2 separate regions of the Homo sapiens genome follow, and region 1 is linked to region 2. The links come from fine-mapping of genetic effects on gene expression. A gene starts in region 2. The other region holds a variant in brackets. All regions are shown on one strand. Distances are between the middles of the regions. Region 1 overlaps DENND2C (DENN domain containing 2C). Region 2 holds the start of BCL2L15 (BCL2 like 15).

What was found. PIP is the estimated chance that this variant, and not a neighbour inherited with it, causes the effect. A credible set is the group of variants that fine-mapping cannot tell apart.
Region 1: its variant is the best candidate, but not a certain one, in a credible set for the expression of BCL2L15 in subcutaneous fat (TwinsUK, PIP 0.82).

The regions. Positions count from the first base shown.
Region 1 is chr1:114,649,546-114,652,458 of GRCh38, forward strand. All of the region lies in intron 2 of DENND2C (DENN domain containing 2C), which reads right to left. Among named protein-coding and RNA genes, the nearest start is that of DENND2C, 19 kb to the right of the region's middle. The variant T/TAC (reference allele first, on the strand shown) is at 1,731.
Region 2 is chr1:113,886,131-113,889,043 of GRCh38, forward strand. It overlaps BCL2L15 (BCL2 like 15), which reads right to left and starts at 1,451. Exons shown (of 4, transcript NM_001010922.3): 1 at 1,119-1,451; 2 at 407-528. The coding sequence starts at 1,245. The region is part of intron 3 of AP4B1-AS1 (AP4B1 antisense RNA 1); the gene reads left to right.

The DNA of each region.
Region 1 (2,913 bases), 760 kb after region 2:
AATTTTTTTTTAAATAGAGACAGGGTCTCGCTGTGTTGCCAGGGCTGGTCTTGAACTCTTGGGCTCAATCCTCCTGCCTCAGCTTTCCAAAGTGTTGGTATTATAAATTTTGAGCCAATACGCCTGGACAATAAAACCTAGTTTTTAAACCACAAATTCAGACTTGGTAAATTCTTAGCAAGACACTGAAAAATAAAGGCAGCAAAATCATTACTAAAGTATTCAAAGGTTGAAGAAATTTTCCAAAAGCTAAAAAGAAGCAATAAAAAAAAGTTTTAAAAGTCACAAAGTAATACTACTACTTTTCAGAAATTTTGAAAATAGAGGAAACAGGAGAAAAATACCCGTAAGTCTACTACCTCCAACATGGTCACTGGGACATTTTGGTGTATCTTCTGTTTTTTAAGCACATTTTTATACAGATGCAATTACAGTGTATACATAATTGTATCCTGCTTTTTTTCATTCAGAGTTATATAAAATGATGCAATTTTGGCCAGACTCGGTGGCTCATGCCTGTAATCCCAGCACTTTGGGAGGCCGAGGTGGGTGGATCACCTGAGGTGAGGAGTTCAAGACCAGCCTGGCTAACGTGGTGAAACCCTGTTTCTACTAAAAATATAAAAAATTAGCCAGGCGTGGTGTTGCACGCCTGTAATCCCAGTTACTCAGGAGGCTGAGGCAGGAGAATCGCTTGAACCCAGGAGGCGGAGGTTGCAGTGGGCTGAGATCATGCCATTGCACGCCAACCTGGGCAATAAGAGCGAAATTCTGTCTTAAAAAAAAAAAAGATGCAATTTTCAAGAATTTCAGCAATTTTCAAGAATTTCAGACTATGGCTGGGTGCGGTGGCTCACGCCTGTAATCCCAGCACTTTGGGAGGCCGAGGCGGATGGATCACGAGGTCAGGAGATCGAGACCATCCTGGCTAATGCAGTGAAATGCTGTCTCTACTAAAAATACAAAAAAAAAAAAAAATTTAGCCAGGCATAGTGGCGGGCGCCTGTAGTCCCAGCTACTCAGGAGGCTGAGGCAGGAGAATGGCGCAAACCCAGGAGGTGGAGCTTGCAGTGAGCTGAGATTGCGCCACTGCACTCCAGCCTGGGCGACAGAGCGAGACTCCGTCTCAAAAAAAAAAAAAAAAAAAAAAGAATTTCAGACTACAGACATAACAGGCTTTCTTAAGAAACACACATTCATAACAATTGTACAATGTAACTTTCTATTTCATTCTAAAGCTTAAAATCCAGAAGATGTATTTCTCAAATTTTCAAATGACATTACAAAATTATATATCCTTTGCATATTTTATCTCATTTGACAATAAAAGAGCAACAAAAGTAAAACTGCAGTAACATGGACATTAAATACATCTCGTATCCTTCACAGTGCCATTTAAAACACAGTAAGGGCATTAGCTGGGTGTGGTGGCAAGCGCCTGTAGTCCCAGCTACTTGGGAGGCTGAGGCAGGAGAATCACTTGAACTCAGGAGGTGGAGGTTGCAGTGAGCCGAGATCGTGCTGCTGCACTCCAGCCTGGGCGACACAGTGAGACTCGAGACTCCATCTCAAAACAAAACAAAACAAAACCAACAACAAAACATAGTAAGGGCTAGGCATGGTGGCTTACACCTGTAAACCCAGCACTTTGGGAGGCCAAGGCAGGAGGATCACTTGAGGCTAAGAGTTTGAGACCAGCCTGGGCAACACAGTGAGACCTTCCCTACACA[T/TAC]ACACACACACACACACACACACACACACACGCCAAGTATGAAACATGTGCCTGTAGTCCCAGATACTCAGGAGGCTAAGGCAGGTGGATCACTTGAGCCCAGGAGCTGGAGGCTACAGTGAGCCATGATTGCACCACTGCACTCCAGCCTGGGCAATGGAGCAAGACTGTCCCTAAAAATAAAAAATAAAAGTAAAAAGTGCCTGTAATCCCAGCACTTTGGGAGGCTGAGGTGGGCAGATCACCTGAGGTCAGGAGTTCGAGACCAGCCTGGCCAACATGGTGAAACCCCATCTCTACTAAAAATACAAAAATTAGCTGGGCATGGTGGCATGTGCCTATAATCCCAGCTACTTGGGAGGCTGAGGCAGGAGAATGACTTGAAGTTGGGAGGCGGATCCTGCAGAGCTGAGATCACGCCACTGCACTCTAGCCTGGGTGACAGAGTGAGATTTTGACTCAAAAAAGAAAGAAAAAGGAAAAGTTATTTCCAACTCTTCTTCCTGAACAATTTGGCCCTAATTAGGCAAAGCAGAGTAAGTAAGGCAGGCACACTTGCCTCATGCTAAGGAGCAAGGTAAGGAGAGCATCTGTGTAGGAGGGCTGCCTACTGTGGAAGTATCAGAGCCTAAACAAGGTAAGGAGTGCAGTCCCACAGAGGGGTAGCCCAGCATGGGATGTTAGAGCTTCAGCAGAATGAGGAGGGTATCCAGGCTGATAGATGGCCTGGTGCGGGGTTGTAAGAGTCAGGACAAGGTGAGGAAAGCATCCTAGGAGGGAGCCGACTGGCACAGAGTATTGGCAAGTGGACCTTGGGCTTGATTTCAGCTCCTTGGCTGGATGCCTGTGTGTAATGCACAAACTACCCAATCAAACACAGCACCCTGACTGAATGCTATGCAACTATTAAAAAGGATGAGGTAGAGATCTGTATGCAGATATGCAAAGATGTCCAAAATAAAAGTGGGGAAAAGCAAGTGGAAAAACAATTTTCAATACACTTTTTAAAAAGGATATACATATATCTATATACCTGCTATACATACATCTATATACAAGCCCTCCCCTCACACATGCACTGCAATAATGTGAATTTGAAAGTTACACAATTGACTCTTATTCTCTGTCCAGCCCCCTTTTCTCAAATGGGGGGTGGGCAGGCTATAGTTCTCTTCCTCAAATT
Region 2 (2,913 bases):
GCTTGAGCCCAGGAGGTGGAGGCTGCAGTGAGCTGAGATCACACCACTGCACTTGAGCCTGGGTGACACAGTAAGACCCTGTCTGAAAAAAAAAAAAAAAAAAAAGATACTATACTTTGCCAAGAATAAAGTGTTATAAATGTGCTCTGTGCACACTAAGCACAACAGCTGTGATGAAGACCAAGTAGAGACAAACTGAAGGTTCATCAGCCTATGCCCAAAATTTTCCATCTCTGTACCACTTAGGTTTTAGCAATTGGAGAATTCTTGCTATACTTCCTTGAAATATAAGCACCCAAATATTTTCATAGAACATTCCTAGTCACTGTAGTATGGGAGTAGTAAGAAAAGGAAGTTTGAAATAGAAAAAAAAGCAGCAAACAATAGCATGAAGTAGAAACTTGACCTGTCCCTTAATGGTTTCTGCAATGACGTTTTTGGCAGAAGCTTCCAATTCTCCGTTGAACTGGTCACCCAACATCCGAAGGCGACCAGCAATGATAGCCACATCAAAAGAACAAGGCTCTCCTATGACAGAGGGAACACATTTGTTACAATGCTTGAAGCAATGGCAAGTCCCAGGAATCTGGGCAATGAGAAAAATTTGTCTTGTCTTTTAAATAATTTTCATATCATGATCTCCCAAGAGCTTAAATGTTCTGTCAACACCAATAGTCAGAAAGTTTCCCTTCATTGAGAACCTCTTTCGCTTTAGGTGTTACTGAAAGCTTAGAGTTTGCCTTTTGAAACTTAAAGGAAATAAATAAAATATACTGTTTTTTTTTTTTTGAGACCGAGTCTCTGTCGCCCAGACTGGAGTGCAGTGGCGTGATCTCAGCTCACTGCAACCTCCGCCTCCCAGGTTCAAGCAATTCTCATGCCTCAGTCTCCCATGTAGCTGGGACTGCAGGCATGAGCCACCACACCTGGCTAATTTTTCTACTTTTAGTAGAGATGGGGTTTCACCACGTTGGCCAGGCGGATCTCAAACCCCTGACTTCAGGTGATCCACCCACCTTGGCCTCCCAAAGTGCTGGGATTACGGGAATCAGTCACTGCGCCCGGCTGAAAACATACTCTTATTGACCTGCAATCACCGCCTAGGGCAGGAACCTTACCTGAATCTACTTCATCTACACAGCATAGGTTCCGGCTGGCAACCTGCAATGTTGGGCTCAAGAAGTCCATGAGTAGAGTGTTCACAATGCATTCCGTTTGTTCCTCAAAAGTTTGGGAGCTCTTCATTTTAGATGTTTGCTGTCAAGTTTTGCTTTTCCACGAAACAAGCAGTTTTCAGCCCAGCAGGAAGTTAAAAACACTGGTAAATCAACAAATGTTTCTACCTCTTGTAGTTTCCTGACATGTAATCCTGGAACTTTTCCCACTAGCTTTCTTCAAACACAGCTGCTCAGAAAGGTGGGACTTCTCAGAAGGATTACCTACTTGGAACTGGGGAGACTTTAAAGACTTTAGGTTCTCTATCTCAGACCACACCCTAACCACATAAAATTAATGCTTAACTTTTATCGTTAGGTAGCCAACCTAGAACTGAAATAGAGTTCAGGAAGAGCCTCTGGAGTAATTTTATTAAGAAATACTTCCTCGACTTCTTAGGTCCTGCACATGGTATAATTTGAAGGAAGGTTTTGAAGTTACAGTGGACCAGCGTTCAACTTCTGTTTATGGAATTTATTTGCCATAATCATATAATAATTACTTACTGAACAAGGAACTATAGTTGGCACTACAAGTAACATAGAAAAATGATACAGGCACAGTTACTGTGCTCATGAAGCTTACACTTCAGCAGAAATGACAGATATTAAATGAGTAATCGCATTGTTATTTGTGCTATTGAGATCAGTGCACTTTGATCAGTGAAGTGTAACAGGGAATCAAGCCTTTGATCAGTTTAATAGGGAAACAAACCTAGGGGACTGGGAAGGCTTCCTTAAAATAGTACCATCTGACATGAGCTCTGAGGAATAAGTAGGCATTCATTATGCAAAAAGGAGGCATAACACTATTCTAGGCGGAGAGGTAGCAGATATAAAGTCTGGGAAGGTTAAAAAAAAACAACTTGGAATTATAAATGGGGACAACAGAAAATATTTCATAGATAAATTATGAGGATTAAATAAGATAACATGCGGAATGGCCTAGCACTGTTTGGCATACAATAAATGTTAAATGTCCTCCTTTTAGCCCAAGACATAATGACCAGGAGGAAAGAGATCTGAGATTCTCTGTCTAGCAAAAGGATTTTCCTAACAGGGTTGGACTCCATCATTGTTTTAAGAGATCTCATGATTGGACACTTATCTGTAGTGGTTGCCTTCTTAACGTAGCTAAACCTAGATTTTGGGTCTGGGTCTCAGAAGCAGCCATCAAACCTATCAGCAAACTTACCACTCAACCTGTCTGACCTGGTGAAGTTATTAATATTAACAGCTCCAACTAATAAAAGAGTCAAGCATAGGCCGGGCATGGTGGCTCATACCTGTAATCCCAGCACTTTTGGGAGGCTGAGGCGGGCAGATAACCGGAGGTCAGGAGTTCACGACCAGCCTGGCCAACATGGCAAAACCCATCTCTACTAAAAAATACAAAAATGAACTGGGCGTGGTGGTGCATGCCTGTAATCCCAGCTACTAAGGAGGCTGAGGCATGAGAATCGCTTGAACCTGGGAGGCGGAGGTTGCGATGAGTCGATATTACGCCACTGCACTCCAGCCTGGGTGACAGAGCAAGACTCTGTCTCCAAAAAAAAAAAAAACAAAAAAAGATTCAAGCATAAACAGTAAGTCAGTTGTTCAGAATGGAATTTCTATCTTGCAAAATATCAAAGCCAATCTTGTGTTTTCTGTTCCATTCTAAAACACATACAACCACTGCACACCTATTAAAATGGCC